2 linked regions of the Homo sapiens genome follow. The protein of the gene in region 1 purifies or fractionates together with the protein of each later gene. This does not show direct contact. Each region holds a gene or a part of one and is shown on either strand. Other genes may lie near its edges.

Region 1 (16,166 bases):
CATTTGTAGCACGGAAGAGTAAAGACATTCTTTGATGTCACCGCGGTACAGCTATCTGAAAGGATTCCGAGCTCTCCCTTCTCTTTCACTCATGGATATTTTTAAAGAGTGTGGAGAGGCCAGTTGTTTTAGGGAATTTGGTACTGTCACGTTGTTTCTTCATGGTTACATTCAGGTTATACCAGGTAAGCAGTGTGTTCTTCCCATTGCATCAGAGAGCTCATGCTGTCTGTTTTTCCCGTATTGGTTATGTTAACATTCATTACTTAGTGAAGGTGATGTTTGCTGGTTTTTTCTACTGGAAAAGCATGTTTTTCTCCTTTGTAAACAAGTAATCTGTATGGAAATATCTGAGTATAAATATCCTGTTCTCCAGTAAACATTCATTCAATAGTTGTAGATCTATTATTAATTCCTGGCTGAATCAATTATTAATATGATAGTTGCAAAATAGTGAGTTTTTCTAACGTGTTGTCTATATATATTAGCTGGCATTCTGACGTAAAGAAACTTTCTCTTATCCACCCCCATTTATTTATTATGTTGAGCATTTTACTGTTTTTTAATCGGCTCGGCCTTGTAGATTTGCTTTTATTCATTATTAGAATCCATTGCTGTCATCTATTTTGGTGCTCACATGATCTCATTTGGTCTTTGGGGGTTCTTTCTGTCTGCTTCTGTGGATTTCGCCCCATCCCCTCTATTCTAGCCTTTCCTTATTTTCCAATGACGAGATATTCTAGATTCCTATTGAACTTTATCTGTCTGGCTGTGAAATCTGCTGTTTCTCCAAGGAGCCCCTTGTCATTTACAAACCAAGATCTGGGCATTAGCCCTGCTTGTTGCTATGGGTTGTCATTCTTCTAGGCCCTTTGAGCAGGCAGAGGTAGAAAGTATATAATATTTTAAGAACATTTGAGTTCATGCTGATATCTCTAGTTCAACCCCATCGCTTCCCCCATTCCATGTTTGTATCTGCCTCTCCCATAAAGAACCCTATACAGTATACACAAAGTAGTTTCAAAAACAGGTTATTGTTAAGTGTTCTAATTTGATCATTTGTGTCTAGGAATGCTTACAGATTTTGATACATTGATATGTCCATCCCCCTTGTTGAATACTCCTGTTAGCTCTAAATGTTTATAGATTCTCTAAATAATTCTGTAAATTAGCTCTAAATGTTTATAGATTTATGAATTTCCTATGTACATGTTTATTTTGCCTACAAATAAGGACAGTTTGAGGGGAAAGCAAGAGGGTCTTATCATTTTCATTTGTTTTTATGTTTTGTTTTTGAGACAGGATCTTGCTCTGTTGCCCAGGCTGGAGTGCAGTGGCACCATCATAACTCACTGCAGCCTCGACTTCCGGGCTCAAATGATCCTCCCACCTCAGCCTCCCGAGTAGCTGGGACTGCAGGCACATGCAATCATGCCTGGCGAAGTTTTTTTATTTTTTGTAGAGATGAGGTCTCACACTGTTGCCCAGGCTGTAGTGCAGTGGTGCAGTCTCGGCTCACTGCAATCCCTGCCTCCCAGGTTCAAGTGATTCTCATACCTCAGCCTCCTGAGTAACTGGGATTATAGGCGTGTGCCACCACACCTGGCTAATTTTTGTATTTTTAGTAGAAGACGGAGTTTCGCCATGTTGGCCAGGCTGGTCTTGAACTTCTGGCCTCAAATAGCCTGCCTGCCTCAGCCTCCCAGAGTGCTCAGGCTGGTCTCGAACTCCTGAGCTCAAATGATTCACCTGCCTCAGTCTCCCAAAGTGCTAGGATAGCAGGCATGAGCCACTGTGCCTGGCCTACTTCTATTTTCTTAGGCATTTATATCATGAATAACTATTGACTGCTGTCGAATATTTTTATCTTTTAGGTTTTAAATTATTGTTCTCTTTTAATTTTTAAAATTTATCTAAAACATGAATAGACATTTTGATGTTGAAGTATTTCTCTCCCTATGATAAACTTTATTTGATCATGATGTATTTAACTTTATATGGTACTTAATTCAATTTTATGTAGGTTTTTTTGTTGTTGTAGTGAGTTAGATTTGTTTATAATCTTTCTTTTGTCATATTCTCCTGTTCCAATATTAGTAACAAGGCTATATTAAGCTCAAAAACTAAACTAGGAGCCAGGTACGGTGGCACATGTCTGTAGTCCCAGAATTCAGGCAGCTGAGGCAGGAGGCTTGATTGAACCTAGGAGTTCAAGGTTATAGTGTACCATGATTGTGCTGGTGAATAACCACTACGCTCCAGCCTGGGCAACATAGCAAGACCCTGTCTCTAAAAAAATAAAAATAAATTGGATCCCATTTTTTCTTTCCATTGTTTCTGAAGCAGTTTGAATGAAATTGGGATTATTTGTTTTATGTATTTTTAATGAAATTGGCCAGTAAAACCAATTTGAGTTGAGTGTAGTTCATGAGGAATTGAGCAGGGAAGATTTGATTACTGAGATTTTGTGAACTGGTTTTCAGACTTACTCTCAAAAATCACCCATAGAATATTATCTATGTTTTTACATTTATTGATATAGGTATTTATAGTATCCACTTTTTTTTTTTTTAATTTTGCATTCTTGGTGTGTGTCCTGTGATGTAAGAGTTTGTTTGGGACACAATTTGAGCAAAGCTTGTTTGACAGTTCTGAAGGACACAAAGAGGAACTGGGGTATAGGATCATTTGAAAGTAAAGAAGAAAATGACTATTTTGTTTGCTATCATCTGTTCTGTCTCTAGACCGTCTGTTCCCGTTCAGTTCCAATATTTTTTGCCAACTTACCCCCCTTCTGCATACCCACTGGCGGCACATACCTACACCCCAATCACCAGTTCCGTGTCCACTATCCGACAGTATCCAGGTATGAGCCCTGCTTTTTAGATGACTTTTCACAGTTTAACTTTTGCCAACAATAATGTAGAAATTGATGAGGGGTTATTTTTTGTATGAGATTAATTATTTCAGCTTCTGTTTTCAGATTCAGATAAAATGTGAAGCTTGAAGGTCTTAAATAATCATCTTTGTGATCTATAAAAGTTGTTACTCATTAGTGATATTTGCATAGTATTATGCCACCCTGAGGATACTCATGTTAACAATTTTTGTTACTCCTTAAAATGACAGTAGTTACAATGAATAGAGCTGCACTTTTATAGGGTTTCCATTGTTTTATGCAAATCTTGGCTATATTTTTAAAAAATTTATAAAGGTTTGTTTATAATAACTTTTACTTTAGGTTCCATGGTACTTGTGCAGGTTTGTTATATTGATAAATTGCATGCACAGGGATTTGGTGTACCAGTTATATGTTTTTTAGTTGTTATGCTCTCCTCTCATCATGATGACGTGTGAATAGTGTTCTTTTTGCTAATCCAGGAAAAACAATCCTTAAATGTCAGAGTCTGTGTAGTCTTTTACTGTGGAACCCTCAGGTCACTCTGGGCATCAGAAAGCCTTATTTCCAGCCAGGTGCAGTGGCTCATGCCTGTAATCCCAGCACTTTGGGAGGCTGAGGCAGGGCAGGCAGATCACTTGAGGTCAGGAGTTCGAGACCAGCCTGGCCAACATGGAGAAACCCTGTCTCTACTAAAAATACAAAATTAGCCAGGCACGGTGGCACATGCCTATAATCCCAGCTACTTGGGAGGATAAAGCAGGAAAATCACTTGAACTTGGGAGGCGGAGGCTGCAGTGAGCCACTATTGTGCCACTGCACTCCAGTCTGGGTGACAGAGTGAAACTATCTCAAAAAAAAAAAAAAAGCCTTATTGCCTGGGGCCGGGCGCTGTGGCTGATGCCTGTAATCCCAGCACTTTGGGAGGCCATGGTGGGCAGATCACTTGGGCCCAAAAGTTTGAGACCAGCCTGGGCAATATAAGGAGACCCCATCTCTACAAAAAATTAAAAAATTAGGTGGGCATGGTGGTGCGTGCCTCTAGTCCCAACTACTAAGGAAGCTAAGGTGGGAGGATTGCCTGAGCCTAGGAGGTTGAAGCTGCAGTGAGCCATGATGGCGCCACTGCACTCCAGCCTAGGTAACAAAGTGAGAGCCTGTCTCAAAAAAACAAAAAAGACAAAAGAAAGTGTTATTGCTGCCTGGATTGTGGACATTGCCCTCCTGCCACACGGTGCTATATGGCAGCCAGCGGCATGTGTGGCCACAGAGCACTTGAAGTAGATTAGTACATGAAAAACTCGATTGTTAATTTTGTTTAATTTCAAGAAATTTCAAGTATGTTTGGAACAACTTAGCAATGCAAAACTACTTTTTCAGTTGTAGGCTTTATGAAATCAAAATACAGATTAAGCATTTCTGATAAAAATTCATGAGATGTACTCGAAGAGTAAAATATACCCTAGATTTTGAAGACATAATATAGAAAAGAGAATGTAAAATATCTTGTTAAGAATTTTTAGGCCAGGTGCGGTGGCTCATGCCTATAACCCTAGCACTTTGGGAGGCTGAGGAGGAAGGTCGCTTGAGACCAGGAGTTTGAGATCAAGCTAGATGAGACCTAGTCTCTACCAAAAATACAAAAATTAGCCAGGCATGGTGTGGTGCGTGCTGTAGTCCCAGCTGCTTGGGAGGCTGAGGCAGGAGGATTGCTTGGCCCCAGGAGGTTGAGGCTGCAGTGAGCCATGTTGTTTGCACCACCGCACTCAAGTCTAGTCAAGAAAGCGAGACCCTTGTCCCAAAAAAAATGTTTATTAATGACATATTGAAATGGTAATATTTTGAATATATTGGGTTAAATAAAATATATGATCAAAATTAATTTGGTCTGTCTCTTTTTTTTTGAGACGGAGTTTCACTCTGTTGCCCAGGCTGGAGTGTAGTAGTGTGATCTTGGCTCACTGCAACCTCCACCTCCCAGCTTCAAGTGATTCTCCTGCTTCACTGTCCCCAGTGGATAGTATTATAGGTATGCGCCAGCACACCCAGCTAATTTTTGTATTTTTAGTAGAGATGGGGTTTCACCCTGTTGACCAGGCTGGTTTTGAACTCCTGCTCTCAAATGATCGCCTGCCTCGGCCTCCCAAAGTGCTGGGATCACAGGCGTGAGCCACCGTGCCTGGCCTGTTTCTTTTACTTTTTTTTTTTTTTTTTTGAGACAGTCTTTCTCTGTCACTCAGGCTGGGTGCAGTGGTGCAATCATACCTCACTGCCTCCTCAAATTCCTGAGTTCAAGGGAATCCTCCCATCTCAGCCTCCTGAGTAGCTGGAACCACAGGCATGTGTTATGATGCCAAGCTAATTCTTTAATTTTTTATAGAGATAGGGTCTTGCCATGTTGCCCAGGCTGGTCTCCAACTCCTGGGTTCAAGCATTCCTCATACCTCAGTCTCCCAAAGCGTTGGGATCATCGGTACAAATCATCACACCGGGCTGTTTTTACTTTTTTATTGTAGCCACTGGCAAATTTAAAGTTGTGTGAGTGACCCACTATGCCATTGAACAGTGCCGGTCTAAAATTTCAAACATTGTAAGATACTTGTTTATTTAGGGAAAAGGTAGCTTATAAGTGTAAGATATTTAAATAGCTTTGAAAACAAGTTCCAACATCTCTGGATTGTTTTGATGACTGAGGAAAAAGTCCTCTGTGTTTATTTTCTTTCCACAGATAGTAAGAAATTCCTCCTTTTTTGTTGCTTTCTGTGAATGCTCTTGTTTTCTTTTTTTTTTTTCAATATACACAGTAGATGGGGTGTTTGCCTTGTAAGACACAGGACACTTGCTTGTTCTCTGTTTCTGGTGGATACATGCCATTTGAAATTCATAACTACTGTATTTCAAAACCACCTGTGATAGTGGCCCTATCAATTAAAGCAGAGGTTCTTGACCTGGGACCTCTGGGTGTATTTCTGACGTTTTATATTAATTATTTAGCATGGTTTCCTGGCTAATATTTGCAATTTAATAGCTGATTGCCTTTTTTCTTGTTTTAATCATATTTCTAGTAGTCTGTAGAAAAACAACATCATATTGGTAGGAAGTGAAAGGAAATAACAATCCCAAGTATAGTAAGTTTCAAGTAACAATGTTTATTTATTTATTTTTTTTCAAACCATGGATTTAGATCTTATACAGTGGAGGAAATCCGTTTTTAGTGTTTCTCTCTTTATGTGGACTGTGTGAAATGAAGCTAACCTTCTTATAGTTACCTTTCGCATCATTTTTAGTTTCAGCTCAGGCTCCAAACTCTGCCATCACAGCTCAGACTGGTGTTGGGGTAGCGTCTACCGTCCACCTAAACCCCATGCAGTTGATGACAGTGGATGCATCGCATGCTCGACATATTCAAGGGATCCAGCCAGCACCCATCAGTACCCAGGGTATCCAGCCGGCCCCCATTGGGACCCCAGGGATACAGCCTGCACCACTTGGCACACAGGGAATTCACTCAGCAACCCCAATCAACACACAAGGGCTTCAGCCTGCACCTATGGGTACTCAGCAGCCTCAGCCTGAAGGAAAGACTTCAGGTAATTTTAAATTTTTGCATAGAAGGTGGTTTGGAGAAAAGAAATACATTTGGGTTTAAATCCTTTCTCTGCCACTGGCTTTGTCGTCTTATAATTTCTCTAGGCCTTTTCTTCTTTGTATTAATAATATGAGTTGCTTAGAACTTAGAGTTTCAGGGTCACTGTAAACGTTAGAAATAATATACCTCACTGTAATCCCAGCACTTTGGGAGGCTGAGGCGGGTGGATCACGAGGTCAGGAGATCAAGACTATCCAGGCTAACGTGGTAAAACCCTGTCTACTAAAAATACAAAAAAATTAGCCAGGCGTGGTGGCGGGGGCCTGTAGTCCTAGCTACTCGGGAGGCTGAGGCGAGAGAATGGCGTGAACTGGGGATGTGGAGCTTGCAGTGAGCCGAGATCACGCCACTGCACTCCAGCCTGGGCCACAGAGTGAGACTCTGTCTCCAAAAAAAAAAAAAGATACAGTATACATCAACAGCCCTAGTATTCATTTGAACATAATGAGAAGTGTTATCTTTTTTAAAAGCTCCTAGTTGTGGGAAAAAATTCACCTTATAAGTAGTATTCTCATTGAAGATTTTCTTCAGAGTTGTACATAAAGCTGTAAAACCTTATGCTGATGTTAGCTAATATTATGAATTCTTAAAAAGAAATACTAGTGGAATAACATTTTGAAAAATGGAATAAGTCACTGTATTTAGATCTTTTTGAGACAGATTCTCACTCTGTCACCCAGGCTAGAGTGCAGTGGTGTGTGATCTTGGCTCACCACAGCCTCATCCTCCTGGGCTCAAGTGATCCTCCCACCTCAGCCGCCTGAGTAACTGGGACTATAGGTGCAAGCTACCATGCCTGGCTAATTTTTGTATTTTTAATAGAGACAGAGTTTTGCCATGTTGCCCAGGCTGGTCTCAAACTCCTGGGCTCAAGTAGTCTACTCACTTTGGCCTCACAAAGTGCTGGGATTACAAGCATGAGTCATTACACCAGCTAGGTTATTTTTTTTTTGGCTGAATTTAAGATTCCATGTACTTGGATTATTATTGATTAGCCATTTCTCTAATGTAGTTTAAAAAAACAAAATGGCTGTTTCTCAGCCAAGGCACTGATTTTTTTTTTTTTTTTTTTTTTAAAAAGACAAGGTCTCACTCACTCTGTTGCCCAGCTGGAACACAGTGGTACAATCATGGCTCACTGTAGCCTTGACCTTCTGGGCTCAAGCAGTCCTTATGCCTCAGACACCCGTGTAGCAAGGACTACAAGTGCATGCCACCACACCTGGGTAATTATTTTTGATTTTTTGTAGAAACAGGATATTGCTTGTTGCCCAGGCTGGTCTCGAACTCCAGAGTTCAAGCTATCCTTCAGCCTTGTCCTCCCAAAGTGCTGCGATTGCAGGCATCAGCCACTGTGCCTGGCTGGAGCTATGAATTTTAATTGTTCTGTAGACCTTGAATTCAACTATTTAATCAAAGTCTCTCTGATTTTTTATTACTAAACTAAATGTCTATGATAGAGATGCAATTTACCCATGATGACCCACCCGGTAGGATGGTGTACTACATATTTAAGGGCACCTGCCAGAAAACTCATGATATTAAGTTGACTCCTATGAAATTGCCATTTTTATAGGTCAAAAACTGTCAAACACAGGTATTTTCTGATTATGATCTCATGCTCACCAGTATTTTGATGCTAACTTTAAGTGTATAGTTAAAATATCTGTTAGTTGAATGTGTTTCTAAAGATAGACTGGGGAGGGTACCATTATTGAGGGTTGAGAGAGATTGGTATTTTACAAAAACTGAATGAGTACATTTCTTGAAGTGTACATTGGAGCATGCTATCAGGCTGGTAGATAGTGTTTTCTATTTGTGGCTCTTGTATTAAGCCTTTCTTGTCTGTCAGTTTTCTTATCTCTAAAATGGAAATTACAATGATGGTAAGAATTATATCAGTAAAAAATGTAAAGTAACTAGTAGAGTGAGAGACTATACTAGATACTATGTACTTTGTTCACCTTATCTCATTTATTAGTAACTGTGATTATAGAGCAAAGAAAAAATAATGGTATGGGCCAAGTGTGGTGGCTCACGCCTGTAATCCCAGCACTTTGGGAGGCCAAGGCAGGTGGATCACTTAAGGTCAGGAATTCGAGACTAGCCTGGCCAACACGGTGAAACCCCGTCTCTACTAAAAAATACAAAAATTATCCAGGTGTGGTGGTGCACGCCTGTAATCCCAGCTACTCTTGTGGTTAAGGCAGGAGAATCACTTGAACCTGGGAGGTGGAGGTTGCAGTGAGCTGAGATTGCACCACTGTATTCCAGCCTGGGCAAGAGAGCAAGACTCTCTTTCAAACAAAGAAAAAGAAAAAATAATGGTATGGATCATGCATCAGTAGACTTAGTAACTGCTCCCATTTAGCTATCTGCTCTTTGTCGGATGAACATTGTGCTCCTGTCCCTTATCAGTTTGAAATTGGACAGTTAGAACATGGATACCTAATTCTAGTGGTCTCATCATTTTTATTTATGTCTTCTATGGCATTTTGTTTCCCTCTCTTCAATGTTCTTTCCTGTTGCCTCTCTCCTGTAGCAGTGGTGTTGGCAGATGGAGCCACAATTGTGGCCAACCCTATTAGCAATCCATTCAGTGCTGCTCCAGCAGCAACAACCGTGGTGCAGACCCACAGCCAGAGTGCTAGCACCAACGCTCCCGCCCAGGGCTCATCGCCACGGCCAAGCATACTCCGGAAGAAACCTGCCACAGATGGGTGAGTAGACCTGGTAGTGCCGAATGACACCTCTGGTTCTGGATATAACTGGTATACATAATAGGCACTCTTATCTAATGCTGGTATCAAACTCATCTCTCATTTTCTGTGGTGTGTTAAAATTTCCTCCAAAACAACTTGACCACAGGATTATTCAGTAGAGCCTTACCCAGCTGAGACTGTAAGATCTTAACAAATCCTGGAGTCAGTGAGGTGTTAGTTTGTAAGCATCTGTTGCATACTGCTTTAATTCTCTCTAGTTCTGGAACTTCAATCATAGAACTTTTAAAGTAGTTTATAAGTAACTCTTGGGCTTGTGTAGGTAGTTACCTTAACTCATACTATAAACTTCATTCAGCATGAATCGTTGCTGTTGAAACGGGAAAAGTTCCCTTGTCCCCCTCGCAGGGCGTGCAACAGTGGGAGTGGCTCGCTTCTTCATTGCCCTGCTACTCAAACCTCTAGGGGAGCATACAGACAGGCAGGCTGTGTCGCTCCAACCCTACAGCAGTGTCTAGAGGTGAATGTTTACAGCTGAAACCCCAGTGGGCATGTGTTACAGAGTGCTCTTTTAGTTTAGCCATCCATAGATGGCTTGCATTAACCAGCTCAATTAGACCCCTGCCTTATGGCAAGGACAGAGAGCTTTCTGTATCCCAGGGTTCTTGCCTTGGTGTACTGGAAGAATGGGATCACACGTGGGCTTGGAGAATGAGTGTAGGGTTTTACTGAGTAGAAGTAGCTCTCAGCAGATGGGGGAAGCCAGAAGGGAGATGGAGCGGCCCCAGCTCTCTTGACTGCCCTGGCCAAACTGCGTCGTTCTGCTGGTCGGGGGCCTGCTGGCATGCCAGCGTCTGTCATGTGCTCTTCCACCGGCATGCTCCCCTTGCTGTCCTCTCGCCGTCCAGCTGCTTGTGTCTTTTGCCAATGCGTTCCTCTTGACGTCCAGCCACTTGTGTGCCTGTCTGCTAGGGTCTCGGAGGTTTTTACAGGCACAGGATCAGGGCGTAGCAGGCCAGGGTGGTCTGGGGGAAATGCAACATTTGGGCAGGAAAACAAAAATGCCTGTCCTCACCTAGATCCGTGGGCACAGGCTGGGGGTGGAGCCCTCACCAGGGACCCGCCCCTTCCCAGCACTTCCCTACTCCCCTTCTATGTCACTGTGGGCAAACAAATTCTGAAGTGTAGTAAGGGTCATATTTGGTAGCAGATAGTGTTTTGTGTTGCCATGTAAGCTTCTCAGTTGGTGGATCATAGGCAGGAAGGTATGTGCTGTGCTGTTTGAGTTAAACATTCTGGAGGTGGGAGATGAGCAGACATGTTTCAGAGAGCAGAGTTTCTGTGGCTCAGCTGAGCTAATAGCATCAACATCAAAAGATTAAAGCAAGTGCAAACTTAAATTGCTGGGACTAGGGTCCATGCAGGGTTTTTATTTGCACAGAGCTGTGCATATACCAGAGTCCCTATCTTTGCTGTTTATGAATACTTTGTACTTTTTTAAAGGATAAGTCAGTCCATGACAAAGTTACCTTATTAGTAAAAACACAAGGCAAAGCTTGTGGTTAAGATGACAGATTGATTACACACATCTAAAATCTTTCTGTCTCATAACCCTATATAACTTTTTTTCAAAAAAGTTGTAAACACACAAGGATGGGGAGAACAGGAGAGGACACAGTAGCAACTGAAGCTGGGAAGCAGACCATCACGCGATGGCGTCCTGGCTCTGAGAAAGCTAAATGTGAAGCTTGCGTAGGGGAAAGTTGAGAACCATCCTCTTTTAAAATTGGAAAATCTTCAAAAGGACCAACAACAGGCAAATCCTGGGGGCGAAGGAAGGGGCTCTGTCCTTTAAGGAGGATAAGTTAAAACCTTTGAGTTTGAAAAGTGTTAAAGTTAGAGCCCAGAATCCCATTTTCTACCTATGCCATGTGGTGTACTGCCCCTTCCCGACTTTAGCAGGAGCCTGAAAGTTCAAACTCTGCAGATGGTCCGCTAGGGTCACCCAGCACTATAGAGGTCATGAGTATTTTACCAGAAAGAGATTGTGACTCACCGTGTGTGTGTGGAGTGCTGAACACTTCCCAGTCCACTCCCTGCTTTCAGCTGATAGAACTCTGGCAGGTGAACTTGATTCTAGATAGAAAATGAGAAGAGGACTCTACTTTCCTTCTGGGGAGTCTATCCAGCCCAAGGGGAAGCTCTAAAGATACTGACACTAGGGCTTCCTTAAGGACAGGGTTAGATTACCCTACAGTGGACCTCATAGTAGACATGCCCTTCCAAAGCTCAGAGCTCCCAGCCAGCATTTCAGTCCCTCTCCCCGACTCTTAATCATGAACATACAACCAAAGATAGGCACATATCTGAGGGGACCTCTAACGGTGGAAGACAGAAACCACAATAAATACATGCCCAAAGCACCTTGGAAGATGTAGAGGCCTGGCAGGGAGAATAAAACACAAAACAAATGAGCAAGGATAAGCAAACAGTATCCGTGATGCCTTCAGAAAGACAAAAGAAAAGGTTGCATCCACAAAACAGTAACACAGTGCTATGCAAAAAGAACATTCAGAGGAGAAAAGAACCGGTCCTGAAATAAGATAGCAGAAATTGAAAGATCAGTAGAAGAGTTGGAAGATAAAATTGAAGAAATCTCAAACGTGGAACAAAAAGACAAGAAAATTGGAGAAAACGATAGGAGAAAATTTAAAACAACAATAAAAAGAACCAGGTCAGGAAATCCAGCCTCCAGGTAATGGGTTTCAACAAGAGAGATCAGAGAAAAGGAACAGGGATTACAAAGTAAGGAGTTTGTTATAATATTGTAATCTCAGTTCAAAAGTTAACTGCAAATATAAAACCCAATGATTTCTATATAGTAAATTGAACTGTAAAGGTAACTTGTGTGTGATTCTGAATACATAGATAAATGTTTAAAAAAAAAAAAAAAAAAAAAAACAACAAAGTAATAGAAAATTACCAAAACTGAAAGAAATGAGTTTCCTGGTTACAGAAATGCCCTGCACAGTATTCAATGGATGCAATAAACTCAGGCCAGTATTTTGAAATTTGGCAGCACTGGAGACAAAGAGATGTGCCTGCTTCTCCCGTACTTCCTCCCAAAGACCCTTGTACTGTGCCCTCTAATTCACAGCCTGTCATCACATGACACTCCAACCTCCACCCCAGTGCCCTTGTCTCTTCTTTCTCCACGCCTTCTTGCTTTAAACCTGGGACTCAACTTGCCCTGCAGCTGTCTAAAGTGGTCCCTGCCTCTCTTCCACATCCCTACTGTCACTCAGCCTGGAGGTAGGCAGGGTGTCCTTGTCATGCCTCACTGCCATTTTCAGACCATTTCTCCTCAAAAGCACTTGATCTGTATTTAGATTTCATAAAATGTACAGTTGAAAAAGTAGTTTCACATAGCCAAGTTATTCCAGACAATAAAAAGTTTCTCAGTAACTGGATCGAGTATCCATTATAAAATTCAAATTAATTAAAATGAAATAACATTAAAAATTTTGTTCCTGAGTTGCGCTTGCCACATTTCAGTTGCTCAGTAGTACCATATGGCCTTCTTGTTGGGCAGGGCAGATCTAGAGGCGCAGAGTCAAGTTAGATTTTGCAGGTGTATCTGTATGCCTTTTGGAAGGACATGATGTCTGGCACTTTTTAGTGATAGTGGAACCCTCTCTTCACCTTTAATGATCAGAAATGATTTTCCAGCTCCCTGGCCCCTCAGGTGCTTGAATGCTTCTCCTGCCTCCACCCTCCCCACCAGTTTGGGCACTTAGCACATAAGCTCAGTGAGCCTTCCTGACCTTGTCTCTGTGCTCCCATGCCCCTAGCCCATCTTCTTTCTTCCCACCTCCCTCCCAATGGAACTCCAGCTCCAGAGGGACCCCAGCAGCCTCCAGTCCATTGATCCACCTTTTCATGTTCTTCACTGCCTCTCATGGCCTCTTTCTCTGCTCTTCCTGATTCAGAGTCTGTGGTCACTTGCAGTCATTTCCTTAACCCCCATCCCACTTCGCTTTGTCAAAACCAGACTTAAATCCAACTTTCTGCTTCATTTACGCTGGCACATGTACAGCAAATTGCAGCAGGGAAAGCCACTTTGCCAACTGGTCTTGCTTAGCCTCGCAGACGCACTAAGGTCTTAAAGCAGCCCATCAAAGTATACTCTCTTGCACCACTCCAGATAACTATTTTACGTTTCCTTCTCTCAAAACTCCCAGGCTTCTTCCGTCTTCACTGTTAGTCGACAAATTGCTCCTTTTTTGAGAAAAAGAAAATCAAAAGACAACTTCCACAGTCTGCAGCTATCACATCTATAATACTTACGGTGGCAGTACCCCATGTCCTGCCTCTGTCTGTTCCTCTAGACAAGCTCTATGGGCTCCTCTCCAACATGCCCTGTCTCCTCCTCTCTTGTCTATTCAAGAATGATGCTCTAGTTCTTCTCCCCCTCTCTCCTACGGCCTCAGCTTTTTCTTGTTAGTAGATCATTCACATAAACAGTATAAACATGCCGTCATTTCTTCTGTATGAAATATCCTTCTGTTGAGCTCACTTTGCTCTACTATCTACCACCCTAAATTTTTTTTTTTTGCTCTTCTTTGTAAAAAGAAATTGTCTGTGTTTGCTGTGTCCAGTTCTTCTGTCCGTCTTTTTTTCATCATTTTCATGGAAGTATATAGAAAATGTCACAGACGCATGTATAGTCTCAAAATAAACAGTGTCCAACCACTGTATAGGTCAAGAAACAATGTTACTGTAAGGTCAGCCAAGAGAAAGGATGAGGAGACCCAAAGTCAGGCAAGCAAGCTTTATTGAGCTGCTTGGCTGCTCCACCACAGTTAGAGGAGGCAGCCCCCCTTACAGACTATAGCAGGGTTTTGTAGGGCCAGAACTGGGTCGGGGTCGGGGAGCTGAGTCGGGTGCAAGAGGACTGGGTCGGGGTGGGAGAGCTGAGTCGAGGGTGCAGGAGGACTGGGTCGGGGTAGGGGAGCTGAGTCGGGGTGCAGGAGGACTGCGTCGGGGTGAGGGAGCTGTCGGGGGTGCAGGAGGACTGGGTCGGGGTGGGGGAGCTGAGTCGGGGGTGCAGGAGGACTGGGTCGGGGTGGGGGAGCTGAGTCGGGGGTGCAGGAGGACTGGGTCAGGGTGAGGGAGCTGAGTCGGGGGTGCAGGAGGACTGGGTCGGGGTGGGGGAGCTGAGTCAGGGGTGCAGGAGGACTGAGTCGGGGTGGGGGAACTGAGTCAGGGGTGCAAGAGGACTGGGTCGGGGTGAGGGAGCTGAGTCGGGGGTGCAGGAGGACTAGGTTGGGGTGAGGGAGCTGAGTCGGGTGCAGGAGGACTAGGTCGGAGTGCGGGAGCTGAGTCGGGGGTGCAGGAGGACTGGGTCGGGGTGAGGGAGCTGAGTCGAGGGTACAGGAGGACTGGGTTGGGGTGGGGGAGCTGAATTGGGGGTGCAGGAGGACTGGGTCAGGGTGGGAGTGCTGAGTCGGGTACAGGTGTCTTTACCCGCATCCTGGAGATGTTTTTTGCCAGCTTTGTTGTGCGAGGTGAACAGACATGTTAACCGCATCCTGTAACTGGACAGTTACTGGAGGGGTCAGTGAAGGGTGGGGTGGGGGTTTGTCTTTTGCCCTCGGGTAGCTGTGAGGAGAGTGCAAGGGACTGTATTGTAAGGCCTGTGGGAGGGGAAGGAAATGGTCTGGTCGTGGTGACCTTAACAGTTACCAACATCTTTTCCCAAAGGTAACTAACCAATGGATAGATAGAATCATATGATGTGCATTTTTTTGTGTGAGTCTGACTTTCATCACTCGGTTTTATGTAATTCATCTGCATTATTGCCTATGAATTTGTTGTTGTTGTTGTTGAGATGGGGGTCTCACTCTGTCTCCCAGGTTGGACTGTGGTGGCGCGATCACAGCTTACTGCAGCATTTACCTCCCCAGGCTCAGGTGATCCTCCCACCTCAGTTTTTGTATTTTTAGTAGAGATGGGATTTCACCATGTTGCCCCGGCTGGTCTCGAACTCCCGGGCTGAAGCATTCCACCTGGTTCAGCCTCCCAAAGTGCTAGGATTACATGCGTGAGCACCTGGCCTTGATTGTAATTTTTTAATTGTATAAAATACCATGTATAACAGTACCGTGTTTTATCCATGGTTATTTGGGTTGCTTCCATGTTTTCCTGTAATGATACCCTGAACATTTTTGTGCATGACTTTTGATTCATGCATGAGTACGTTTCTGTTAAATACTGAGGGATTTGCTATGTCATAGGGTGTGCTTGTTTTAAACTTTCATGGAGCATGGTTTTCTGCGTGGTTTTACCCATTTACACTCTCACCAGGAGTAATCATTGTTTCATCCTCACCAACACTTGTTCTGGGCAGTCTTTGTGAGTTTGGTCATTCTGTCGGTTTATAGTGATGTTTCGCATTAGGTTCTTTTTTTTAAATTTGTTTTTGGTTTGGTTAGTTTTTGGCCAGTGTTGGGGGTGGGAGGGTTGGCAGCAATGCAGTTGGTCTTGCTTTTTTAACTTTTATCCTTATTTTTGTTATGGAAAAGTTTAAACATAAGAAAATCCTGTGGCCAGGCACGGTGGGTCAAGCCTGTAATCCCAGCACTTTGGGAGGCCAAGGCGGGCAGATCATCTGAGGTCAGGAGATCGAGACCAGCCTGGCCAACATGGTGAAACCCCGTCTCTAGTAAAAATACAAAAATTAGCTAGGGCATGGTGGCAGGCACCTATAATCCCAGCTACTCGGGAGGCTGAGGCGGGAGAATCACTTGAACCCAGGAGGCGGAGATTGCAGTGAGCTGAGATCGTGCCACCACACTCCAGCCTGGACAACAGAGCGAGACTCTGTCTCAAAAAAAAA
Region 2 (16,166 bases), on another chromosome or scaffold:
TATGCTGATCAAATCAACACCGGAAACAGAAAACTGCTTTCCTTACTCTTAACGCCAAAAGTAAGTTTATGGACTTTAGAATTTAGCATTTTATGAAGAAATTGTCTCAGGAACACATTTTGATCCTAAGTTTTGTCAGATGTATACAGGCCTTAGTTCTCAGAGAACCCTCGATTGTTAACTTTTTAACTCCAGCTGACAAAATGTGTTTGTGTTCTAAACAGTATACATGTTTCTTCTAGTGTTTTAAGAATCATACGCCATTCATCACCTGAGGTCAAGGGTTCCAGACCTGCCTGGCCAACATGGTGAAATCCCGTCTGTACGAAAAATACAAAAATTAGCCGGGCATGGTGGCACCCACCTGTAATCCCAGCTACTAGAAAGGCTGAGGCAGGAGAATCACTTGAACCCGGAGGCGGAGGTTGCAGTGAGTCGAGATCGCATCACTTCACTCCAGCCTGGGTGAAAGAGCAAAACTCCGTCTCAAAAAAAGAAAAAAAGAAAAAGAAAAAAAAGAATCATACTCCATTCCAATTGTGATGTCCCCCTTTAAAGTTTCAGTTTGGGTGTTAGGGTAGGCAGAGAAGGCCTGGAAGCAAAGAAGTTGTGGAAATGGGGCTGGCAGGGCTTCGTTTCAAGTCAAGTCGAGTTCCTGAGCGGTGTGGCTGAGTACCGTTTTGAGAAGGGATATATAAAAAGATTTCAAGGTGGTAAAACTTGGTTTTGAGGGAACTTGATTTTTACAGGAGTATAGCGACTGTCCAAAATCATATTAAATAAATCTAAAGGTTAGGTAAGACTAAAGCCATAAGAGAATTTTTTTGAGTAGGTCCACCTTCACTAAAGAGCATTTTTTAGTTCTGCAGCTGGCAATCTGGACAGAAAAAAATGGGGTAAGTTTTCATAACCCAAGTGCTCAGTTGTGTCTATTCATTACATATAAAAAAGAAATGCATGACCATTAACAGATGCTGTTTGCAGTCAAGAAGACAGCAGTAAAACATAAGCAGGATAAAAATCTCAGCGTCTTGAAAGGAAACCATTTAGCAACGAAATAAACTTAAAAATTAATTGTATCAATGAACTCTTGATTTCTAAAATCTTTGCTTTTTCTGCACTATGATTACTGCTACTGACAGGAACGCAAGTTACTCAATATAGTTGATTGCAAGTAATTTAGATGTTCTCCAACAGCACAAAGAAAGAAAATGACTTCATCTTTTGGACAAGAGACAGTTCTGGAATCCTAGTTTAAATATAGATGGCAGACCTACGGTGCGATCTGAGAATGATTCTTATTTAGAAGGGGCTTCAGAAGATCTCAGAACTCCTGGAAAGACATCTTAGCATTCCATTCTGGAAATTCTTTAGTTTTGTTGGGAGAAAAAATCACTTACAAATAGAGCCAAGATTTTAATTAAAACAAGGTAGTAAATAAATGTCAAAATAAGTGGGATGAGAATAACGTTTCATTTTCAGAAGAGTCCATAGGGAACAATTCAGAGATAAATTTAATCACAAAAGGTCTGAGAATGGGAATATTCGGTTCCACCCTGGTTTTCACATCTGTTCATTTTCACTACTGGTTGCGTTTCCTACGGAGACTCGGGTGGAACATAAAAGTGGGGCTACTTTGGACAAACCATTAAAAACCTTACCCTTTTTTCTCGCTACACACAACTAGACCACATTGCTCTTAGCTAAAGGGACACCTTAAATCTATTCGTTCAGCAAAACTTATAACACCGTGTTCCTTTTCTACTCAGAGGGAATCGCACAAATTAATTCTTGCAGATACTCAGCTCTCCTGTTTTTTAAGCTTCCACGTGGGCCTTAGCCAAATAACTTCTGGTAGGCAAATTCTCCCCTTCTTCAGTTGAGAGCTCAGAGCAAGCTGTTGGATTAAGCAAAAGCACCTTTTAAAAAATTAATATTCAAGGCAGCTGTACCGCGGAGGGCCTGGGTCTCGGAGTCTAAAAAATCAGACTGGACGTTACTATTTTTTTTTAGGCAAACGACAGCTCGTTTCTCATTTGTAAAACCGGGGGAACATCTTACCGAATAAACCTTACACAAACAGAAAGGATTCCTAAGGGCTGGGAAAATACTATTTTGCTGTCCCCAGGATGGAATATCAGCATCCTTGTCTTTTAGCTCTTAATAAAGCTCTAACTAGTCACAGGAGGAGCCAGGCTGCATGATCACGCACACTCTGGACGTCTAGGTTTTCCGACCTAATAAGGGGGCAGGTCGCGTCGTTCCCTGCTTAAATTAGAGACCACCTCCACCTGCCAAGGGCCCTTCAAACCCTCCGCCCCTAGGTCGCTAACGATCACCGCTTTAGTTCTAGCTCCAGGCGCCGCCTGGCGGCTGTCTCCGGAAGTCGCCTGCGAGCCTCGGGGTCCTGACCGCTGCTGGGCCTGCCCGTAGATTTGCCTGACTCTAGCGAACCTGGCTCCGCCCCTCCCCCACTATACGTTGAGGATTTTAAGACGGCGATGAAAGGGCTGAGGTTGTGGCGACGGGGGCGTCCAGCGGCATCTCCACTCCCCCAAGGATGGCGGAATCAGGCCGTTGTCGGGCAGCTCTCGACCCGGAAGTCGCTCGCGGCGCGAGGCCCCCGTTGCCGAGCGCGGGCGCGGGGGGCGGAGCTCGGCGGAGACGGGGAAGGGGTCGCCGTGGCTGCCGGTCCTCGAGTTGGGGGCTGCCGCGGACACTGCTAGGCAGACGGCGAGTACCGAGCGCGGGTGGCCGCGGTGTCCGTGGGCCACGCTCAGCTGCGGTCAGAGGCGACATGAGTGCCGCGGGGCTGCTGGCCCCGGCCCCGGCCCAGGCTGGAGCGCCGCCGGCCCCCGAGTACTACCCCGAGGAGGATGAAGAGCTGGAGAGCGCCGAGGACGACGAGCGCAGCTGTCGGGGCCGCGAGTCGGACGAAGGTGAGTCCTGCCGCTCGCCCGGCCGCCCGGAGCGGAGGTGGGACCGCTGGGGGAGGGGGTGGGGCTGTTCGGGAGAGGGGCGGGGCGGCCTCCGGGGCCTGGGGCTGCGTGGAGGGGCCGCCGGGAGTTGCGGGGCTCGGGGAAGTTACCCCCATCCGTGCTGGAGTAGCGGGGAAGCCCTGGGTGCGTTACACTCGACCGTGATGGGGAGAGGGGACTTAGATGTTGTCACGCTGGGGGTCCCTTTAAGACCCCGTCCTCCCTCCCAGCCGTTTCTGATTGAACCTCACTCACTAGTAGGAATTAGAAACTCATTTACTGAATACATCGAGTGTAGTTCGCCCCTTTTTTGTGTGTGAGAGCATCAGAGTCCAAAGTTGCCCCTCCCCACCCCCGAAATGCATAAGTCATCTATACTTTAGGTAGTACACTATTGAGAACTCAGGTTGGTTAAAGGAAAGGGACCTAGAACCAGCCAGATACAGGTTTAAATTTGGCTTTGTCACTTAACTCAGCTTTGTAAACTTAAGTTTTCCAGCCTCGATTTACCCAACTGTAATGGAGCTGTTTAATTCCCACACCTGCCCTAGAAGGCACTTCCTAGGGTCGGTATAGGGATTAAATGACATGCGCATAAAGTACTTGGCCTGGTACTGTAAATACTCCGTAAATGTTCTCCCCACCCGCCCCCCTCCCGGAAACAGGTAAGAGAGGGAGAGATTTGCTTAATGGTCCCCAGGTGTTGTGTTTTCAGTCCCACGCTCTTTGCACTGTCATCACAGAGTCTCAGAGCCTTGCTTTTCAAACTGGGCTTTATAATTTGGCAAGTGTGAGGAACGCTATTTTGGAGGGATGGAGGAGGAGGAAGGTGATGAAATGTGAGAGATCAAGGGAGGAGAAATAGGAAACAAAGAGAGACCGATATATGAGCGGAATATTCTGGGACAAAATCGGGCCGTGGAGCAAAAGCTAGACCAGCTGTTTGGAATGGGGCCTACGTTTTATTCATCTGAGTTTCCCGAGTGCCAAGTAATGTGGCTGACCATGACAGGAACTCAGGGAAGGCCTCTTGACTGAAGGAGGGGAGAAGGGTTTGTGGGGAATTGGATCTGCAACAGCCTTACAAAAGACAGCTGCATATGCATGACATACAAAGTTGAGGGACTGCATTCGATTTAATTCCATCAGAAGACACGGCTTAACCAGAGATTTTGAATGTGAAGCACTTGCACTTCATCTCATACCCACGAGGGGGCGCTGTGGAGCCAAAATTGAGTTTTTTTTTCCTTCCAGTATAGGGGCTATTAAAATTTTGTACACACCCCAGCCATTAGCTTGTTCTAAGAACAATGTTTAAGATGTTCTGAAACAGTTTTCGTTTGATCATCTGGCCTCCTCCTTGTTCCCTTTAGTTGTAACTTGGAAAATATTTATTTGTGTCAGATTCCCCTTTTTTATTGTATACAGTTGGCTCTGCGTATCTGTGGGTTCTGCATCTGTGAATTCAACCAAGCGCAGCTCAAAAATATTCAGGAAAAAAATTGGATCTGTACTGAACATGTGCAGACTTTTTTTTTGTTATTCCTAAACAGTGTAGCGTAACAACTACTTACATAGTATTTACATTTTATTGGATATTGTAAGTAATCTTTTTTTTTTTTTTTTTAAGATGGGGTCTCACTCACTCACCCAGGCTGGTGTGCAGTGTCACGATCTCAGCTCACTGCAACTTCCATCTCCTGGGTTCAAGCAGTTCTCCTGCCTCAGTCTCCGGAGTAGTTGGGATTACTGGCACCTGCCACCATGCCTGGCTAATTTTTGTGGTTTTATTTGTTGTTTTGTTTATTTTATTTTTTTTTGAGATGGAGTTTCACTCTTGTTGCCCAGGGTGGAGTGCAATGGCGCGATCTCGGCTCACCACAACCTCTGCCTCCCGAGTTCAAGCAATTCTCCTGCCTCAGCCTCCTGAGTAGCTGGGATTACAGGCATGTGCCGCCACCCCCAGCTAATTTTGTATTTTTAGTAGAGACGTGGTTTCTCCATGCTGGTCAGGCTGGTCTCGAACTCCCGACCTCAGGTGATCCACCTGCCTTTGCCTCCCAAAGTGCTGGGATTACAGGCGTGAGCCACTGCACCTGGCCCTAATTTTTGTGTTTTTAGTAGAGATGGGGTTTCACCACGTTGGCCAGGCTGGTCTGGAACTCCTGTCCTCAGGTGATTCTCCTGCTTTGGCCTTCCAAAGTGCTGGGATTACAGACATGAGCTGCCATGCCTGGCCTGGATATTCTAAGTAATCTAGAGATGATTTAAAGTGTACTGTTGGCCTGGTGCAGTGGCTCATGCCTGTAATCCCAGCACTTTGGAATGCGAAAGCAGGTGGTTCACTTGAGGCCAGGAGTTCGAGACCAGCCTGGCCAACGTGGCGAAACCTCATCTCTACTAAAAATACAAAAAGTAGCCGGGTGTGGTGGTGCACCCCTGTAATCCCAGCTATTTGGGAAGCTGAGGCAGGAGAATCGCTTGAACCCAGGAGGTGGAGGTTGCAGTGAGCCGAGATTGTGCCACTGCACTCCAGCCTGGGCGACAGAGTGAGACTGTGTCTCATTAAAAAGAAAAGTATACTGGAAGATGTGCGTAGGTTATATGCAAATACTATGCCATTTTGTCAGAGACTTGAGCAGCTGAGGATTTTGGTATCCACGGGAGGTGCAGTAACCACTCCCCCACGGATACTGAGGGACAACCGTGTATCCTGATGTAAAATGTGCGAAGGGTTCCAACTGGGTATGTATCAGAAGAGAATGTACATACTAGTTTTTTTCTGGAGCAGCGAGTAAGGCTTGACTGCCTGCAGTGTCCAGTCTTACGCCTGCATCTCCTTTCTTGAGTTGCCAGCATTGTTGTTTCTGCAGAAGTAGCAGCCTTCACCATAACTGCCTGTGCCTGAGACACCCTATTCTGTGGCTGCATTTCAGGTAAAGGCAAGCTTTTTGCATAAATCTGACTGTAAGTTGGAAATGGCCTTTTCTTTTCTGAAGTACGGCTGTCCCTCGGTATCTATGGGGGACTGGTTCCAGGACTTCATGGATACTACAACCTGAGGATACTCAAATTCTTTGCATTGGCCTTTTGTGTCCACAGGTTTCGTGTTTGCAGATAGGGATGGCCTACTAACTGTATGTAATGTTTTTCATTGATGGCTTTGTGCAAGCCTGCCTTGAATAGAAATTGATTTTACGGGAGTTTATTGAGTGCATACTCTGTGTCAGGTGACGCCAACTCCGTGAATTATGATTTTAACTAGCCCCTATTTCCTAACTTTATTCAGACACTGAGGATGCTAGTGAAACTGACCTGGCAAAGCATGATGAAGAAGACTATGTAGAAATGAAGGAACAGTGAGTATGATATGCCTATGTCTTTTTGGAACATAGAATTGACAACATCTTTATATAGATTGAGCATCCCAAATCTGAAATCTCAGATGCTCCAAAATCTAAAACTTCCTGAGTGCCAGCATGATGCTCAAAGGAAATGCTCATTGCACTATTTCAGATTTCAGATTTTTGGATGTGGGATGCTCAGCTGGTAAGTATATTGCAAATAATCTAAAATTTGAAAAAATCCAAAACACTTCTGATCCCAAGCATTTCAGATAAGGGATACTTAATCTGTAGTAACCTTGTGTGTATGAGTTTGACCATAGCGCTTCCAAAGACCATGTATGTTTACAATTTCTCCACTTTAAATTAATTACATTTAATCAGTCTTCCCGTTATAAGACTTTGTTGAGTACTCTCTAGAAAGAATCTTGAGGGCAATGGACCCAGGGGAGGGAATGAGGCCGTACAACAGGAGAGGACCTTTTACTACTTACTCTTTTTTTTCCTTGAGACAGAGCCTTGCTCTTTCGTCCAGACTGGAGTGCAGTGGCAGGATCTCCTCACTGCAACCACCGCCTTCCGGATTCAAATGATTCTCCTGCCTCAGCCTCCTGAGTAGCTGGGATTACAGGTGCACGCCACCACGCTCAGCTAATTTTTGTATTTTTAGTAGAGACAGGGTTTCACCATGTTGGCCAGGCTGGTCTCGAACTCCTGAGCTCGTGATCCGCCCACCTTGGCCTTCCAAAGTGCTGGGATTACAGGCGCGAGCCACTGCGCCCGGACCTTTTTTTTTCTTTTCTTTTTTAATGGGCAAACCAATGCACAGAGAGGGTAATTGTTGTCTTGAAGCAATTGGGTTCTCAGGTGAGTGTAAACTCACTGCACTAATGTGCTAGACAAGGTGCCGGAGGCCTGGAGAGCTCAGAGAAGCCACGATTGAAAAGCAGGCTGCTGACTCTTATTTATTTATTTATTTATTTTTATTTGTTTAATTTTTTTTTTTGAGATGGAGTCTTGCTCGGTTGCCCAGGCTGGAGTGCAGTGGTGCAATCTTGGCTCACCACAACCTCCACCTCCCAGGTTCAAGTGATTCTCCTGCCTCAGCCTCCCAAGTAGCTGGGATTATAGACATGCACCACCATGCCCGGCTAATTTTTGTATTTATTTATTTTTTTTGTGTGGAGATGGAGTGTCGCTTTGTTGCCCAGGCTGGAGTGCAGTGGCCTGATCTCGGCTCACTGCAACCTCTGCCTCCTGGGCTCAAGCAATTCTCCTGCCTCAGCCTCCCGAGTAGCAAGGACTACAGGCACATGCCACCATGCCCGGCTAATAATTTTCGTATTTTTAATAGAGACGGGGTTTCTCCATGTTGGCCAGGCTGGTGTCAAAACTCTTGACCTCAGGTGATCCACCTGCTTTGGTCTCCCAAAGTGCTGGGATTACAGGCGTGAGCGACCCTGCCTGGCCACATGCTGACTCTCAGGCCAGTGCTCTGTCCACGTTTGCACCTGCTCTCACCCAAACCTTCTCATTGTCTTCAGACAGAGCCACAGCCGAACAGATTCAGAGAAACGAAAACCTCACTCACTTTTAGCGTACACCCAGATGGAAAACGGTATAAAGTATATTTAATGTATATTTGTTGAATGTGTTAGGTTTTTAAAGTTCTTTACCTTTTAACAGGATGATCCACATTCATTTCCCTTTAGGTCCTTTTTGCAAATGTTTTGTGGCCATCCTCTGGATTCTCACATTGTTTTTGTGCTTTGGAACTCAAAGGGGTAATTCAGCTAGGTCTAACCAGTGCTGAATAAAGATGGATTACTTTTTTTTTTTTTGAAACAGAGTCTCACTCTGTCACCCAGGCTGGAGTGCAATGGCATGATCTCGTCTCACTGCAACCTCCACCTCCTGAGTTCGAGTGATTGTCATGGCTAAGCCTCCTGAGTAGCTGGGACTACAGGCATGCGCCACTACGCCTGGCTGATTTTTTTGTTGTTGTATTTTTAGTAGAGACGGGGTTTCACCATGTTGGCCAGGCTGGTCTTGAACTCCTGACCTCAGATGATCTGCTTGCTTCAGCCTCCCATCGTGTTGAGATTACAGGCCTGAGCCATCGTGCCAGGCCACTTTTTTTTGAGACAGTAGCCACTTTTTTTTGAGACAGTATCTTGTTTTGTTGCCTGGGCTGGAGTGCAGTGGCATGATAGCAGCTCACTGCAGTCTCAACCTCTGGGGCTCAATCCATTGATCCTCCCACCTCAGCCTTCCAAGTAGCTGGGACAACAGGCACGTGCCACCACGCCCAGCTGATTTTTAAAATTTTTAGTAGAAACTAGGTCTCACTGTGTTGCCCAGGCTGGTCTTGAATGCCTGAGCTCAAGCATTCCTCCTGTTTCGGCCTCCTGGAGTGCTAGGATTACAAGAATAAGCCAATGTGCCCAGCCTTTTTTTTTTTTTTTTTAAGAGACAGGGTCTTGCTCTGTCGCCCAGGCTGGAGTGCAGTGGCATGATCTCGGCTCACTGCAACCTCCAGCCCCTGGGTTCAAGCTATTCTTCTGCCTCAGCCTCACGAGTAGCTGGGATTACAGGCGCCCACCACCACGTCTGGCTAATTTTTTTTTTTTAAGTAGAGACAGGGTTTCACCATGTTGGCCAGGTTGGTCTCGAACTCCTGACCTCAAGTGATCCACCCGCCTCGGCCTCCTAAAGTGCTGGGATTACAGGCGTGAGCCACCTTGCCTGGCCTCCCTTAGTATTTGATGATACAGAAAAAATTTCGGTTAAAATGGAATGCCTTGTGTAATTCAAGGGGAAATCTAAAGTGCATCAGAATTTGCCCTGAAAGAGTGAGATGTGTGTGAGTCTCAAATTCTGCCTACTCTCCTCCCCTTACAGAGGGTTGGGTTGTATTTGCAGCCCTTATTTGAGCGCTAAAAAGGTTATCACGCCCATGTGCTCACTTCAGCAGCACATATACCAAAAGGTTATTGTGCTTGTTATATGTTGGACAGTGTTCTTTCAGATCACAAATCTTGTTTTTATCACTGTTAAATTGAGGGTGTTTTTCAGGTAGAAGCAAAAATACTTGCTGAAATGTGATTTATATGTGGAACCCACCTTCAAACCAACTTGCTGAAGTTATGACTGCCTATAATCCATTAGGTGTGAGAGGAAAAAACTAACATGCCAAATGCTTTTGCTTCGTGTGTGCTGTGTATTCCCATCCAGCTGGGGCTGCCAGTAAATGCTGCCTTTTAACTTTTCTTTCTGAATTACTATTATTTCTCTGATCCTAAAAGAGTAGTGCTTTAAAAAATGACATGAAGGTTTATTGACTTAGTTCTTACACTGCTAAGCATATCTGCATAGAAAAACATGCTGAAGGCATAATCTTACTCTCCTGTAACTTACAATCTAATTGTAGAGTTGATGTAAGAGTTGTGTTTAATGCCATTTCTACATTGTGTGTGTGCTTGCCTGTTTATAATTGTCATTTATTAAAATCTGCTATCGTTGCAAGTTTTAGACGGATTCTGTAAAGATGGGATAACATGGGAGAATCTACAAAATTAGAATAAGATTGAGGAACACAGGGTTCTTTCTTGTTCCTTTCTGATCCCTGTGGCTGCTGGTGCATTTTAAGCCAGCAAGCAGACTTTACTTTCCTCTCTTCCCTGAAGGACATTAATGACCTTCCCATAACAGCCCAGCTAATTTCTGTGAGTAGGTTATTTTGGAATTGAGTATTGAATGTTTTTATCTGTTAGTGTGACTTTTTTTTTTTTATAGGATGTATCAGGACAAACTGGCTTCTCTCAAGAGGCAGTTGCAACAACTGCAAGAAGGTTGGTGTGTGATTGAATCCTGCATTTCTAAATATGCTTCTTAATATTACAAACCCTTGAAATCTGTGTATTTCACTTCTCTGTGGGAGTTATTTAAAACACGGTCTGGCTGATCTTAGCTATCCAGTACATTTTGCTATCTTTTGCTGTCAGTAAAGTGGTGATTTTCCAGCTCCTTGATTTTGAAACATTTATTTCCAGTATGTGTGAGATTCTTTCTTCAAATGAAATCTCACTTGGGACTTTCAATGGAGCACGAATTGAACGCCACTGTGCCTAAAGCTAGAGATTTTTAGGAGAGACATTGTTATCAAAGAATAAAGTTTTTACTGTTTTTTCTAAACCAAATGTTAATGACCTTGTGGATTATTCACACTGTGTTTTCTCCTTTTTGCTTGTTACATTAAAAGTAGATTGTATTTTGTCAAATGCTGCTAGCTGCTAAAGGCAGTGCAGCATCAGAGTTAAGAGTGCAGGCTGTGAGGCCAGGCGCGGTGGCTCACACCTGTAATCCCAGCACTTTGCGAGGCCGAGGCGGGTGGATCACGAGGTCAGGAGATCGAGACAATCTTGGCTAACATGGTGAAACCCCGTCTCTACTGAAAAATGCAAAAAATTAGCTGGGCGTTGTAGTGGGCACCTGTAGTCCCAGCTACTCTGGAGGCTGAGGCAGGAGAATAGCGTGAACCTGGAGGCGGAACTTGCAGTGAGCCAAGATCGTGCCACTGCACTCCAGCATGGGCGACAAAGCGAGACTCAGTCTCAAAAAAAAAAAAAAGAGTGCAGGCTCTGGAGTTTTGTGAGGGATTGGAATCCCAGTTTCCCTGCTTCTAGTAATGTGACCTTGGACATGCCAGTTTCTCTTGTTTAATCTGTTTTCTGATCTGCAAAATGAAGCAAGTAAGAGTAGATGTGATTATGCATGAGGAGCGTCTAGCACAGCAGTGTGCACACTGCAAGGTCCTGGGGACAGTTAGCTGTGGCAGTGAGCTCTTCGGTTTCATATTGTGGAGTCCCCTTGTCAGTGAAACTGTTTTTGCTTTTCTTTTTTTTTTTTTCGAGGCTGAGTTCCGCTTTTGTCACCCAGGTGGAGGGCAGTGGCGCGATCTCAGCTCACTGCAACCTTCACCTCCTGGGTTCAAGCGATTCTCCTGCGTCAGCCTCCCGAGTAGCTGGGATTACAGACGCCTGCCACCAGGCCCGGCTAATTTTTGTATTTTTAATAGAAACGGGGTTTCACCACATTGGCCAGGCTGGTCTTGAACTCCTGAACTCAGGTGATCCGCCCACCTCAGCCTCTCAAAGTGCTGGGATCACAGGCATGAGCCACCATGCCCAGCCTGATACTGCTGTTTCTACTATGTGCTTTTATTGCTGGTGAGTGATCCACGCCCTTGGACTAGCCCATGGTCAGGCATTATAATCAGGAAACACTTCCCCCCACAAGATGGGCCCCTCATAATTAACTGTTTTGTGGGAAGAGCAATGAAATGAATAGCGATTTGGTTAGAATCTATACCTGAATTGTTTAATGCTGTCACTAGCCACATGTGGCTGTTTAAATTTAATTAATAATTTAGTTCTTCGGTTCCACTAGCTACATTTCAAGTGCTAAAATAGCCACAAATGGTTAGTGCCTGCCATGTTGGACATTGCAAATATAAAACACACCATTGCAGAAGGTTCTACTGGAGAGCGTTGACCTAGACCTTACTGAAGGAGAATGAACCTTTTCCAGTAAAGGAAGGCCCGTTGATTCAGACTGTTGCAGCAACTGATCAGAATAGTGTGGAGATATTGGCAATTTTCCACTCCCCCTCACTCACTACAGACCCTTGATCCACTGGGTTGGGTAGACTTTGAATGGGCCCCTAGTGGTTTCTGCTGTGTGCCTTGGTTAAGAACCAGAGTTAACTTTGCTGAGGTGTGTCTTCCTTTGGTGTTACTGAAACAGTCAGTGTTGATGCTAGATAATAATTTTAGGAAGCAAAATGTAGAGCAGATTTATATTCACAATAATTTTATTTTTCAAATGTTCAAAATCAGGTACATTACAGGAATATCAGAAGAGAATGAAAAAACTAGATCAGCAGTACAAAGAGAGGATACGGAATGCAGGTAAGGCTCCTTTAAATGGCAATGAATCATCTTTCAATGTTTGACCATTTGCCGATCGTCGGTGTAATGCAGCCCTAAGAGCTATTCTCCAAAACATATCCCAGATACTCTGTCAGGGAGAGTTTTCAGAAAAGAGACTTCCAAGCTGCAGTTATGGAAAGTGGTTTCATCTTCTGCTTCTGTTGCTAAGGAATGGCCCAGAAGTGGAGGGTGTCTGAGGAGGCTCCTTGGAGTTAGGTTGTTCTCCCTGGTACCCCAAGAGTAGTCTTGCACCCTCTTGCTCATTTCTGCATGGCTGGCCTGATGTACAGTCAGAAGTGCGGATGAGGAAAAGGATTGTAGGTTGTTTTTGTCCCATTTTAAGTTTTTTTTTTTGGTATTTTGTGCTAGGATTGGGGAGGGTCTTCTTGTTATTTTCCCCAAGTATTGTTTTTATAAGAATTTAGAGAAAACGCACACTTGATTAGTTGTATACAGTAAATGTATTCATTCAACAAAAATGAATTGAGCACCTGCTACATCTAAGCACTGCGAGCAATATAAAGTCATGTAACACATTGCTTTGACTTTAGGACACTTGGTGTTTCATTGACAAAAGATACCACATGTATAACGTGTAAAGTTAAGGAACACCGAGTTAAAGAGCCATGCAGAAAGTAAGATGTGACAACTGTTTAAAGTGTGTAAACATGGATTCCTGAGGTTACAGGAAATCGCGTGTATGTGTTGAATTTTTAACGCTCATCATCAGCCAGCAGTTTGGGTGCCAGCAGAGTCCTTGTTCCTGCGATGGTAGAAGTAATGATGGGTTTTAAAATGAGGGTTGGGTGCCACTCCTCATGCTGCTGTCATCTTTCATTCTGGGCCAGTGACTCTCCAACGCTTCACTGTGTCTCCTCAGTGAGAAGCTGCCCAGTGCACACCAACAGAGAGAAAAGGGGTTGAAGTGTGGGTGGGCGCTGAGAAAGTGGAGCCCCAGCTATTAGCTGTCTGCCTTTCCACCTTCTACCTCTCCCTGCTGTTACCCCCTTTCTACTCTGAGTTCCTGAAGCACCTCCTTGAGATGTCTTGAAAATCCTCAACCGGTTGCTCTTCCTAGACTTCCCTTTTAGCAGATAAAGGAGGTGGCATTTGTGGAAGGAGGTCCTGCCTCCTCACTTTAGATCTGATCCTTTAAGCAGAATATTTGCTCTTGAAACCTCAATTTCTCCATCTGTAGAGGGGAATATTAATACCTCATGGAACTGGCATAAGATGGAAGTAAGGAAAGAAAATGGATGTGAGTCATATTTCTGAAGTTAGAACAGCAGAGTGAGTATTGAGTTGTTTTTCTTCATTCTGCTCAGACTCTCAATCATGTCCTCATGTGTTCTTTTTTTTTTTTGAGACAGAGTCTCACTCTGTCACCCAGGCTGGAGTGTGGTGGCGCTATCTCAGCTCACTGCAACCTCCACCTCCTGGGTTCAAGCGATTCTCATGCCTCAGCCTCCTGAGTAGCTGGAATTACAGGCGCCTGCCACCACACCTGGCTAATTTTGTATTTTTAGTAGAGATAGGTTTTCACCATGTTGGCCAGGCTGCTCTCAAACTCCTGACCTCAGGTGATCCGCCCGGCTCGCCTTGGCCTCCCAAAGTGCTGGGGTTACAGGTGTGAGCCAACGTGCCCGGCCCTCATGTGTTCTTTCACATTTCTCTCTCCTAGGTAAAAATGCAGAAGAGCTCCTAAATCAGTCACGACTTGAGCTTTAAAAAGCACATTCTTTTCAGAGATGATCCACCTGCTTTAGTGGTGTCTGGCTGCTTTAACTGAAACAACTGCCACCTCTAAGTGCTAATTGTCATTTTGACTTGGTGCAAGGCATGATTTCTCGGAATGGCACAGGACTTCAGCTGTCTGGCCCACTTGTGCATGGTACAGATCTGAAGCTGTTATAGGAATGATCACATTGGGTTGGGTGTGCCTGGGTTCCTATGCCCAGCAATTCCCAGTGCCAAAGTGGGTAGGACTTCTGGGGGCTAAAAAATAATGAGTGGCTTGTCCCTTTCCTCAGTTAATTTTCTCTGTCAACAACTGTTAACATCTGGGCTTTTAATCTGGGGTTCCTAGAACTGTCAGAATTCTGTGGAGTTTGTATATGTGCTTTGTTCTGGGGAAGGGGTCCATAGCATTTGCCAGGTTTGCAAAGGGGCCCCTGGTAGACTGAGAATAGCACACCCTGGAGAATCTTTGTGGACTGTACGCACAGCCCCCTGTCACCCAGGAAAGAGTAGAAGCCATGGAGCAATTTTGCTTCAAGTTGCGGGTTTGTAGACAGGTTTGTGCTCTATTGTAAATCTAGTGGTGAGGGGAGCTGCTAGGTAACAGTTACTAATCATCCGGCACATGGTAGGTGCTAACTAAGTTGTTGAGTGCTGTTAGATGGGTGCTTTAAGGCATCTGAAGGGCATGATGTGTGAAGAGTCAGCAGGAAAGGCCTCAGGAGGGGGCTGCATTCAGTCAGGAACTTGGGAATGTGAATAGGAGGTCAGAGGGCATTGCAGGGACAGACAGCGTGAGCAGAGCTTGGTGGCCTGACAGTGAAGCCCCAGGTGTCCCTGGAGCCTCTGTCCTATGGATTATCTGTGGAGGTCCTTCCTTACCACATATAGCCCTTCATATAGTGCTTTAAAAAGGAGGTCCTGGCCGTAGGCAGTGGCTCACGCCTGTAATCCCAGCACTCTGGGAGGCTGAGGCTGGCGCATCACCTGAGGTCAAAATTTCAAGACCCTCCTGGCCAACATGGTGAAACCCCGTCTCTACTAAAAATACAAAAATCAGCCAGGTGTGGTGGTTTGCGCCTTTAATCCTAGCTACTTGGGAGGCTGAGGCAGTAGAATTGCTTGAACCCAGGAGGTGGAAGTTGCTGTGAGTCGAGATCATGCCACTGCACTCCAGTCTGGGTGACAGAGCCAGACTCTGTCTCAAAAAAACCAGAACCCCCCAGAAAACCAGGGGTCTCCATCCTTCAGGCTGCGGACCACTGGGCTGCTTTCCCCCACCTGCCGCCTGCCCCCCTACCCTGCCCCAGCCCGTGGGAGAATTGTCTTCCACCGAACTGGTCCCTGGTGCCAAAAAGGTTGGAGACCACTGCTTTAAAACATCACATCCACTCTGTTTCTGGAGTAATTGCATTATTTCTTCTTGACCCATCCTGCCACTGTGGAGACTGTTGGCGGGTGGACTGAGTGAAAGATGGGATAAGTTTATTTTGCCAGGGGAGTTTGGTTCCTGCTGCACGTTTTTTGCCCTCAGGCAGAACTGCCACAGCTGATATGTTCAGGGCCACATTTTTTTTTTTTTTTTTGAGACCAGGTTTCGCTCTGTCACCCAGGCTGTAGTACAGTGGCACAATCTCAGCTTACTGCAACCTCTGCCGCTCAGGTTCAAGTGAGTCTCCTACCTGCCTCAGCCTCTCGAGTAGTTGGGATTACAGGCGCCTGCCACCATGCCTGGCTAATTTTTATATTTTTAGTAGAGATGGGGTTTCGCCATGTTGGCAGGCTGGCAGGGTCACATTTTAACTAGACTTGAGTACTTGTCATGTCCTTTCCCTTCGTGTATATCAACATTTCACTGATGAAAACATTTGCTTTGTAACATGCTTTCAGAAAGCAATTACTGCTTCTAAATGAATGCTAACATCACTGTCTAGAAAGGTGGCACAGCCTAGCAAATCTAATTGCACTTTTTATCTCTTGCAGAACTCTTCCTCCAGCTGGAAGTAAGTACCACGGATCTTCTGGGTTTGCAGGCCCTGTCTGAGACTGGAATCTTGCAGTCCTGATCTGGTGGCTTTTCCTTCTATCACCAAGTAGATAGTTTGGAAGCCTTCACC

What was found.
Region 2: the proteins of SAP130 (region 1) and SUDS3 purify together in Homo sapiens (affinity purification with western blotting; 3 studies listed by BioGRID, with this or other methods). This does not show direct contact.

What each region holds. Positions count from the first base shown.
Region 1 is NC_000002.12:127,979,887-127,996,052, reverse strand, and holds part of SAP130 (histone deacetylase complex subunit SAP130), read left to right. Parts: intron 1-2,744; coding exon 2,745-2,866; intron 2,867-6,186; coding exon 6,187-6,489; intron 6,490-9,090; coding exon 9,091-9,268; intron 9,269-16,166. UniProt on the Homo sapiens protein: Acts as a transcriptional repressor. May function in the assembly and/or enzymatic activity of the mSin3A corepressor complex or in mediating interactions between the complex and other regulatory complexes.
Region 2 is NC_000012.12:118,373,895-118,390,060, forward strand, and holds the start of SUDS3 (sin3 histone deacetylase corepressor complex component SDS3), read left to right. Parts: upstream 1-2,660; 5' UTR 2,661-2,797; coding exon 2,798-2,939; intron 2,940-6,267; coding exon 6,268-6,337; intron 6,338-7,075; exon of another isoform or gene 7,076-7,794; coding exon of another isoform or gene 7,795-7,940; intron 7,941-7,965; exon of another isoform or gene 7,966-9,490; intron 9,491-10,117; coding exon 10,118-10,173; intron 10,174-12,219; coding exon 12,220-12,291; intron 12,292-13,510; exon of another isoform or gene 13,511-14,151; coding exon of another isoform or gene 14,152-14,203; intron 14,204-16,032; coding exon 16,033-16,052; intron 16,053-16,166.